Linked DNA regions of Homo sapiens: region 2 is linked to region 1. The links come from fine-mapping of genetic effects on plasma protein levels. Region 1 holds a variant in brackets. A gene starts in the other region. All regions are shown on their forward strands. Region 1 overlaps IGF2R (insulin like growth factor 2 receptor). Region 2 holds the start of NPC2 (NPC intracellular cholesterol transporter 2).

Evidence for each region. PIP is the posterior inclusion probability: the model's chance that the variant is causal. Protein levels are from antibody-based Olink assays in UK Biobank. Linkage for the fine-mapping came from a reference panel and not from the study's own genotypes, which makes the PIPs less certain.
Region 2: it holds the start of NPC2, and the variant in region 1 is fine-mapped to the plasma level of the NPC2 protein (UK Biobank, PIP 0.96).

The regions. Positions count from the first base shown.
Region 1 is chr6:159,971,840-159,976,839 of GRCh38, forward strand. The region is part of intron 1 of IGF2R (insulin like growth factor 2 receptor); the gene reads left to right. Among named protein-coding and RNA genes, the nearest start is that of IGF2R, 5.3 kb to the left of the region's middle. The variant ATCTTT/A (reference allele first, on the strand shown) is at 2,415.
Region 2 is chr14:74,489,301-74,494,825 of GRCh38, forward strand. NPC2 (NPC intracellular cholesterol transporter 2) reads right to left here and starts at 4,005. Exons shown (of 5, transcript NM_006432.5): 1 at 3,893-4,005. The coding sequence starts at 3,974. ISCA2 (iron-sulfur cluster assembly 2) reads left to right here and starts at 4,465. Exons shown (of 4, transcript NM_194279.4): 1 at 4,465-4,545; 2 at 4,750-4,852; 3 at 4,975-5,090. The coding sequence starts at 4,475. RefSeq lists silencers at 3,758-3,817, 3,988-4,267 and an enhancer at 4,468-4,547.

The DNA.
Region 1 (5,000 bases):
AGAGATGACGTCTTGCTATGTTGCCCAGGCTGGCCTCAAGCTCCTATCCTCAAGTAATCTTCCTGCGTCAGCCTCCCAAAGTGTTGGGATTACAGGCATGAGGCACCATGCTGGGTTTATGTTCCTGTTTTAAACTGATACCTCTCCTTAAATACTTTTTGAAAACTTTTCTTGGGGCGGGGGAGGTTATCAGTCATCTGTACTTTTATGAGATAAAACTGGCTAAAATTTCCGTAAATGTAGCATGTAGTTGAGGAATAGGAATGTAAGTTGATTTTTTTTTTAATTTGATACAAAAAATTTTATCGTGTCACCAAGGTGTGACGTGTTAAGCTCCATTTTAATTTTGTTCCTGGGCATCAGTTTGCTGAAATGTAAATAACTCGGCCAGGTCTCCACTGTGAGCATGAAAAGTCGAGTCCTACAAATGTCCCCGTTTGTTTTTGCTGCTTGGTCACATGGAGGCAGTCCCAAATGTACAGAAGGATCACATTCCAAATGTTTGTAAATTGGTAATTTCATACGTGGAATGTGTTTTTCCATTGATAGTATTCTTGTTCATTGTATGGCCCCCAGAAAGTCATTATCCTTGCAAAGGTTTTGGAGCACCCAGACACCATATGGCTTTAACAGAATCCTAGCCGTAAATTCTCATTGTCTCTAAAAGATGGAGTTGGATTTCCAGGAAAACTACCTCTCCTCCCAAGCCCAGCTCTCTAGAACCTAGAGAGAATATTTTTCATCTGCAGTCGCTTAGACCCACAAGAGGGACATGAGGGCCTGCTTCAGGGGTGCCTGCGAGGCACCTTGTGGGGGCAAAGCTTCAAGGTGACCTTTGGCTCTGAGCACTCCTGGGATGGGGTGCGGTTCCTGGTGCAGTTAGTTATTGGGAGGAACGAAGGAGACAGCACCATTTCAGCAGCAGCTTTAACTGTGTCCGTGCACGTGGAGGGGCCTGCCCTCTGAGTTGTGCATTGAACAGCAGGCACGACAAAGGCTCATTTCCCAAAGTGTATCTGGCTTGAAGCAGCGCTTTAAATAAGTGCATGGTTTTTTTTGGAGAGACTCAGCAAAGCATTTTTCAAGTGTCAAGTGGATTACTTGCCAGGTGGTCCCAGTGCTGAGTTAGAAGTTAATGATTCTTATGCAGGTATTTCTTGGGAGGTGATATTGCTAGTACAAAGTTAGTAGAAAACTTGTTTCTGAGGCTAGTGTGATAGGCTGTGGGACTGGCCTGTAGAAAAGACCTGGGGCAGGAAGGAGTGTTGAAGGTCAGTGGAGGGCGGGAATAGTAGAGCAAGAAGAGAGGGCATTCAGGAGGAGAGGAGCAGAGGCCAGGCCATGCAAAACCAACAACAGTGTCTAAAGTGATCTCAGCTTGTCAGTGGCTTTACTTATTACCATATGCTTTAAACTTTGTAAAATGTCATATTATATATGTAATATGCAAGTTTCCACCCTTTAGTTAGGTGTTAACAAGATGCTTAATGGGTGAGGTCTTAGCAGTGTGCATTAATGATAAAATAATGCTTTGGGATGGTTAGATTTAAGGTAGTTAAGAGCTTCAAAATTTGTACAGGACAAGTTTTCCCCAAATTGTTTAGGTATAAATGCTAGAAAGTTTTTATTATATTGAGGACAAGAGAATAATGAAGCCAGCTGGGAGTTGAGGTTGGTTTAGTTACTGTCTCTAAGGAGATTTTTTTTTCCCTGTAATTTTTCCAAAGGAACAGTGCTTATATGCCTAATTTGGGCCACATGTTAAACCTGGATCACATCCATTTGTGTGTGTGCATTTCAACAGTAAGTGTATGTGGAAGCCTAAGGTTGTTAATTATGGTTACATTAGATCTCATGGATTAATTCTCAGAACAGCATCCTGACAGATTCCCAGGAAATGAATGCCTGCGTTGGGCCTCACGTCTTTTGTCAGCATTTCATAGAGAGAGGGATTTTTAAAAGATGGGGCTGAGAGAAATAATTGAGATGTTCCCTTCCCTATTTTGATCTTGGTATATAAACTATTGTATTGGGGAAAGAACTGAGCAGGCTCTAGAACTGAGCCTAGTGGCAGAGAGTAGCTTATCACTTTGCAGGTGCTGTTCTTTTTCTTCCTCCTTTTCTTCTTTGGATTGTCCTAGCCACAGAGAGCTCTTGCTAATGTTGTAACTGGTCATGAATGGTGTATGAGGAGGTGGGCGTAGCAGCTGTTTGACTTCATGGGACCCACCAGACTGTAATGCCGAATTACAATTTTGCATTTCCACCAGTGATGTATGAGAGTTCCAGTTCTATATCCTTGTCAACACCTGTCAGTGTTAGGTTTAGCCATTCAAGTGGAGTTGTAATGGTATCTCAGTGTGGTTTCAGCTTTCATCTCTCTGCTGACTCATGATGTTGAGCAAGAAAGGAAC[ATCTTT/A]TCTTGTATTTATTGGAATCCTGGATGATGTTCACCATTATCATGTGCTTACTGACTGGGTATTTTTTGTAGTGTCCTTTAAAAATCATATTTTGTCCCTTTTACCCCTTAAAAATTGTTTTTGGGTTCTTCTCCTTATTGAGCTTTAGGAGCTCCTCATGTCTTCTGGGTACAAGTTCTTTCTTAGATATGTGTGAGGTATGAGTGTTTTCTTTCAGTCTTTGCCTTGCCTTTAAATTTTCTCAGTGATATCCTTTGAAGAACAGATTTAAAAAAATTTGATGGACTATAACTTTTTATGGTTTGTGCTTTTGGTAGCTTGAGAAATCAACCTTAAAACTAGTGACATTTGACCTGGGTAATTTTTTGTTTGGAGGGCTATCCTGGGCATTGTAGGATGTCAGCCAGCATTCCTGGCCTCTACTCACTAGATGCTAAGACTATACTCTACCACTCCCCCTCCCCCAGTGGTAACAAATAAAAATGTCTCCAGGCATATCAAAGGCCCTGGAGGGGAGGGGGCAAAATCACATCCAATTGAGAACCACTGGCCTACCCCAAGGTCTCAAAGATTTTCTCCTGTCTCTGCCTCTAGAAGTTTTTTGGTTTTAACTTTGATTCCTTAACTCTAGGATCAATTTTTGTGGTTTAATTTTTATATATGATGTTTGAAGAAAACTCAAACCATATTTTTCCTTTGCTCTCATTCCATGAACAGTCATCAACACAGAAGACCTCCGTAATCAAATGTGTGGTCGTTTTTCCCCAGGCACCAAGCAGTGACCCCTGGCCAATTCAATTCCTGACCCTGTCTACCTGGAGATAGTGTCAGATGCCACAGGTTTGGGGCTCAGTTCCCGAGACCGCTCCCCACCCCACACCAGTCACAAGTCCGGGCCTCTGGAACTTCTGACCAACTGGCTTCAATTTGGGGTTCCCAGAGTGCCTCTTTGGGTCTGATTAATTTGCTAGAGTGACTTACAGAACTCAGGAAAACACTGATGATTAGCAGTTTATGAGGATATTACAAGGGATACGGATGAAGAGATGTTTAGGGCGAGGTATTGGGGAAGGGGTGCGGAGCCTCTGTGACCTCCCTGGCTCACTACCCTCCAGGAATTGCCGTGCATTCAACTATTTGGAAGCTCCCCCAACCCAGTTTTTATGGAAGCTTCAGGAGGTCAGCATTTCTTCTCCCGGGTATAGGGTGGGACCCTCACTGGGGAGGATCTTAAGACCCACAGTCCAAAAGCAGGGAAGATGAGAGTCCTACCTTGGGGCAGGTGGAAGGAGGGGCAGGTGGAGAGATTGTTTCCTGAGGCCTGACACACCCAACATTATAACAAAAGACCAATACTAGGACTGTGGAAGTTGGCAGCCAGAAACCAGATGGGAAAAAAAAACCCATACATGTATTATATATATTTATATATATATATATATAAAGTATATGTATTGTGTATATATTATATAAGCATATTTATTATATATATATTATAGTGTATATTATATATGTATTATATATAATATATAATATATAGTTATATATAATATATACACACGCACATATATAAATAACACCACAAAAAGGGTAAAAGTTTATTTATTTCCATGAATATATCTAGTTCTGTTTACTAATACTTTATGAAATATGCTTACAGCTCTGTTTTTAAGTGAGATTGGGCTACAGTTTTTTTGCTCTGCTGTTCTTGATGGATTTTGTTATTAATAATATGTTTGCTTTGTGGAAGGAGCTAGTTAGCTTTTAGTATTTTTGTATGTGGTGAAACAGTTTGTATATAAGATGGACATTTTCTGTTTCTTAAAGTTTGGTAGAATTCACCAGTAAAACTATCTGGCCCTGGCAGGCTCTTAGGTGGAATATCATCGGGGAGGACTTTTGATTATGGTTTTTTCTAGTTTTATTTTCAGTTTTATCTAGTTTATTTTTCTATTCAGATTTTCTACTTTTTCTTGGGCCAATTTTGGTAATCTCTATTTTCCTAGAAAATTGTCATTTTAATTGTGTATTCATATTTAATAAGTAGCATGCTACTCTCATATTTTTGATACTCTATAGCTCTAGGTAAATTTTTAAAATTCCTGATGTTTACTTGTGTACTTTTTTCTTAATTATATTTACTAAAGACTTATTTACCTTTTTAAAGTCTTTCCAAAAGAACTAGTGTTTTGTTTTTTCATCTTTTCACCTTTTATTTGCAATTTTATTAATTTATCCACTCAGTAACTTCTACATCATTTTTCTGTTTCTCGTTTGACTTGAATGCTTAGCTCTTTTATTTTAAATCATTTTGCATAATTAAGAAATATATTTAAAGCTTCATGTTTCTTTCTTCGGAGTACCATACCACTCATAGATTCTGATACTTTTTTTTTTCTCCATATTTCAATTTTGTGTATTCCCTTTTTGGATTCAAAAGTTCTATCTGTTTCAACTTCCTGGACCCACTAAATTTTTAGATTTTTATTTTTTTCAGGTCCATGGACTTTGGGGGTTTTAAATTTATTTTTTCCATTGTGCGGGTAAATGTGGTGGAACTTACTGACATTTCCCTTGTGG
Region 2 (5,525 bases), not on the chromosome of region 1:
GTTAAAAACATAAGGATGAGACCTAAGAAGGTACTAGAAAGAGTCAGAAATAGGATTTATCCCTGGGAATCCTCAAAACAAATACATATTTTTCAAAATTAAAAAATTTAAGAAAAGAAATTGGATTCATCTGACTTGTCCAGGTTGTTTCTAAGTAGTTTCAAAAACTGATTTTAAGCACACATCTGCAATCTACAGATGTATACTCGATTTTGGGAACCTGCGTTCTTAAAATAAGTGTGTGTGTGTGTGTCTGTGTGTGTATGTATGTATTTTAATCTCAGTCTAACCAAGGACAAAAGTACTTGTATACAATAAATGCTTGACCAAAAAAGGTTTAAATAAAGCCTTTAAAAATCCCATTTCCTCCTGCCCCAGAGACTGGGCAGTTGAATGGGAGAGAATGCAGGTGAACTGCCTGATAACAGTGCCTGTAACAGGGTAAGTTAAGTTCTGCCATTCAGCCATCATTGCTGAGAGGCAGACTCTGGTGCCGGATGCCTGGGTTTGAAATCTCACTATCTCTGCTACTTACTGTATAGCCTCAAGGCAAGATACTTTACCTCTCTGGAGATAATGGTGTAGCTGAGCTAACACAAATACAGATCTTAGGTAAGTGTTTGGAACATAGTGATACATATATTTACTATTATTATCATATCTGGATTTAGTCCATGAGTTTAATCTAGAATAGCTGCTCCTGGGTAGGTTAGCAAGTTCCCTTCTGACACAAAAACTGGACCTCTCACCTCAAATATACTTTGTGGATAGAAATTATGTTTCTAGCCAATAGGATGGACTCTTTCTGTCTCAAAAGTGGAATGCATGAAGACAGAGGCAAACTGCAGGTTGAGAGTACATTATCTGCTATGCAGTCAGTCACCAGATTAGCTCAGTACTATAAAAGTATGATATGAACTCAGAAATCTAAGTAGATGTTCTTTGCTGCCTGTACCTACCCTTGGGTGGAACAGTCTCTTTAACTATCATCACACTGACCAACACTGCTCCAGCTAGGTCAGTAAATAGTACCTTGCAGTCCTTTATCCCTCAGCTTGCTTCTCCATCATTGCAAAGTTCTTAAACTGCACACACTCTTAAGCATCCAAAACAGTTTGAGAAACACTCTCTTCCACTCCAACCCATTTTTGGTGAATAGGGAAAAAAGAAATCCCGAACTTCAATCAACAATCTATTGAAAATCAGTGCTAATGTTAAGGCTTTCAATGTCCAGCTTCCACCTGCTTCTTTCAAGGCTGAGTCACATAATCTAGTAGGAAGTAAGTAAAGGGTAGTACTTATAGCTCTTTCATCCAGTTTTCTGATGACAAGAGGTTCTTAGACTTCCAGTGTCAATAGAACAAACTCCTCTGTTCTAACCAGCAAACATTACAAAATTAGTTTGCTTGGTCCACTTTCTCACTTGAGGAAATCCCACGCCAGGGAAGGTGGGTGTAGAGTGGAACACAAAAATCTTTGATGTGGGCACTGAAGTCTTTATATCATATTTCCCAATTCAAAAGTAAATTATAAATCTGTAACTGAAACCCTTCTTCCCTTTAAAAGCTTCTTCCCATAGGTGTACTCCTGCTTTTTCAAATAAGTAGAATAATTTCTGGATTTATTTCCCTTCTTTTTTTGGAAACCCAAAGTGGCTCACAAAGACCCACGGTTTCCTACCACTTACTGGGTGTGAGATCTTGGGCAAGTTACTCTATGTGCTTCGCTTTCCTCATCTGTAAGACAGCTTGTGAGGATGGAATGAGTTATTTTATTTTATTTTATTTTTTTGAGACGGAGTCTTGCTCTGTCGCCAGGCTGGAGTGCAGTGGCGTGATCTTGGCTCACTGTAACCTCCACCTCCCGGGTTCAAGCGATTCTCCTGCCTCAGCCTCCCGAGTAGCTGGGACTACAGGTGCACACTACCATGCCCAGCTAATTTTTGTATTTTTAGTAGAGATGGGGTTTCACCATGTTGGCCAGGATGGTCTCAATCTCTTGACCTCGTGATCTGCCCGTCTTGGCCTCCCAAAGTGCTGGGATTACAGGTGTGAGCCACTGTGCCTGGCCGGAATGAGTTATTAAAATTAATAGTGTCTTCATCCAAACGCTGGCTACTAAGTTTAATGGAGGGAAAGGCAGTAATTTGAAGCGATAATAGCTTTCAAGTGCCAGTCTCCTAAATCAATGGAATAGCATTTAAGTGTTAATCGGCCAGCACTCCATTCCTTAATCAATCCTGTCCCCTAATCCCCAACTTTGCTTTTGTCTCAACATGAATTTTTATGACATAGGGGAAAAAGATTTCCATCTATGTTTTCAACACATTTCATTGAGCAGTTACTATTACCTGGGCACTGGATATAAAGCAGCAAACTTATGAAACCGCCTTTGCAAAAATCCTGAGGAAATTAAGACAGTGAAAGAGATCAGGACTCACCTACCCATCTTCCTTCTAACCTCTAAACTGTCTTTGTTCATTCCTGGGTGTAGGCTGAACTAGTCTTGGAGAGGAATTTATAGTTTAAACTCTGAAACGAAATGGATAATAGCCCTTTCCTGAAAAACCCCTTCTTGCCTGGGGACCGGTCTGCCTTTGTAGGACTAACAAATTAGCTACGAGTTTAGGGGCCACGCCGCCTCTGGCTGTAAGAGTCTGAACCTCCCCAAATTGCTCCTGGTAATGATATCACTATTGTAAAACCTAAGGTCAGTGCTTGAGATATTTTGCAGATCCTGCATTCCGATGCAGCAAATGACACCACCCAGAGGTCAGCAAGAAGAACTCACTTCGACTCTCCTATGATTTTATCTTCAACCTGACCAATCAGCACTCCCCACTTTCCAAGCCCATACCCGCCAAATTATCCTTAAAAACTCTGATCCCCGAATGCTCGGGGAGACTGATCTGAGTAACAATAAAACTCCGGCCTCCCCCACAGCCGGCTCTGCGTGAATTACTCTTTTCGCCACTGCAAATCCCATCTTGATAAATCCGCTCTGTCTAGGCAATGCGCAAGGTGAACCCCTTGGGCGGTTACACTTACTCTGGCTCCCCATTCTGCTGCGTGACTTTAGGTAGGCTACCCAACATCCCTGGAATTCAATGATTGATTATACGATCTCCGTGCTTCCTTTCCACTCATAGATCTTACAAAGTCAGTTTCATGCCTCTTTCATTGACAGTTCTATCTCTCTATCTCCACCTCTGAACAACATTGCTCGAGTTTCTGTTCCGACAATTCTATAGACTCGACTCAATGAAGGCACTCAGAATTTCTACCACCTGTTGTATTTTCCAACAAAGATTCCAACCACAGCGGCGAGAGGGAGTTATGTATCACAAGCTGTGATTAGAGACACAATGAGATTTATACAAGGAAAAACTGATTAAGAATCACAAGATTCCAAAGCCCAAAGGAAGTCCTATTTGTAACAATAAATGATGAAAAAGGGGAATTGACTTTTGACTTGTCAGCAAAAACGAAATTAAAAGAAAAGCAAAAGGAGTTGGAAGGGGGAGGCGGGATTCCAAGATACAAAGCATAAATAAAAAGAAGTTCTGTGCTCCACCCCTCCACCAGAGCTGGATACAGCCCTTCTGTTGTCCGCCCTACAAACTTTAGGAAACTTCAGCAAAAGGCCCACCTCCTGGAGTTCCCAGGAACCCCAAAACACGCGTTCTAAGGAAAGAAACAAAGTTGTGCGCGGTCGGGTTTCATGGAGGCCGGCGCCTTCTCCCCCGACCCAGCCCATTCCAGTTAGGTAGGGTCCAAGGCTCAGCCTGGCCGCCCGAGGGATCCGCCCAGCCCAGCCCCAGGGGTCTCAGCGCGGGGGTCCGGCGGGGCCTTCCACAGAGGGCGCGGGAACCTTGGGCGGGCCTGGGGCTCACCGCAGTCCTTGAACTGCACCGGTTCGGCCTGGGCAGCGGTGCTGAGCGCCAGGAGCAGGAATGTAGCTGCCAGGAAACGCATCGCGGATAACGAAGTTCCAAGCTCGGGAAAGAAGCAGCGGCCGCCCGCGGTCACAAGACAAACCTGTCGGGGCGGGCCCGGGGAGGAGCCCAGTCAGGCGACCTGTCACCAGTAACCACAGCTGAGGCCCGCCCGCGCCCCGCCCCCGGCTCCGGAAAGCCAGCTCCAGCCCTCTCAGGCCCAGAAGCCTGCAGTCTCCGCCCATGCCATCCCCTCAGAGGCCTGACCCGCCCGGACCCACCTCCGCCCCGCCCCGCCTCACTCCTCCCCGCCCCGTTCCTTCCCTTTAGAGCACCTCTCCGGCTTCCTGGGTGCGTCCCCGCCGCTGCCGTCTGGAGCATTCCTAGCCAATCAGACACCTTCTCCTCCCGCACTACCCAATAGGCATGTTGGGGGGGCGGGGCCTCCGTGAAGTCCCGGCCTCCTGTTCGTTCTCTCCGCCTCCCGAGGCCCCGGGTGAGAAACGGGGGAGACGCGAGGGGCGGAGCTTGTGGAGGAAGATGGCTGCCGCCTGGGGGTCGTCCCTAACGGCCGCGACGCAGAGAGCGGTCACTCCCTGGCCGAGGGGCAGGTACCAAGACTAGAAAGGCACCTGGAAAGGGTGTTTGGTTCTGCGCCTCTAGGACAAATGGGAAACTAAGGCCTGTGGGGGATGCGAGGGTTTGGTGGGAGGCCGTCCAGGTGGGGGTCGCCAGGTTTAGCGTGAGGCGCTCCAGGTCGAGGGTTGCAAGGTGCCCCTTCTGCTCCCGGGCTCACCCTCCTCCCTTGCGCGCAGGCTCCTCACGGCCTCCCTGGGACCCCAGGCGCGTCGGGAGGCGTCGTCCTCCAGCCCCGAGGCCGGCGAAGGGCAGATCCGCCTCACAGACAGTTGCGTCCAGGTAGGAGGCCGGACGCGGAGCGGCGGTACCCAGGCGATTGGCGGGAGCAGCGGGAACTGCTCTTCACTCAGCCCTTTAACTCCCGTTTCCCGCTATTCTTGATCCCCCTTCCTGCATTTCAGAGGCTTTTGGAAATCACCGAAGGGTCAGAATTCCTCAGGCTGCAAGTGGAGGGAGGTGGATGCTCCGGATTCCAATACAAATTTTCACTGGATACAGTTATCAACCCCGACGACAGGCAAGGAGGAAGGGGTGGGCCCCCAAAGGAGGTACAGGAGGGACAAAAGTGTCTCCAGTTTAAGGTGCACTTTTATTCCAAATTTAAAGGGTTTACCTGGGATGGTTAACACCGCCCGTCTCACAGTGAGGATGCAGTAAAGGTTTGTTGTTCTGAATCAAAGTAACTAAGTTATAGGAGCAAAATTGATCTGCCCAGGTCCATTGGGTAGTCGGTAGAAAGTCAGGCCGGACTAGATTCCAGGCTTAAGTCCCTACACGTTTCCCAGTATTTATTCCATTGAATCATTTTGCCTCAAAGAAAATCAGCACCTGTTAAAGGTAATGGGGAAGCTCCCTCTGTACTTTAGAAAACAGAGGATGTGCACCTCTGGGCTCAGGGGGTGTCTTTTTTGTGTTTGCGATACTCCTTAATGCCTTCCTCCTGTCTTTTCAG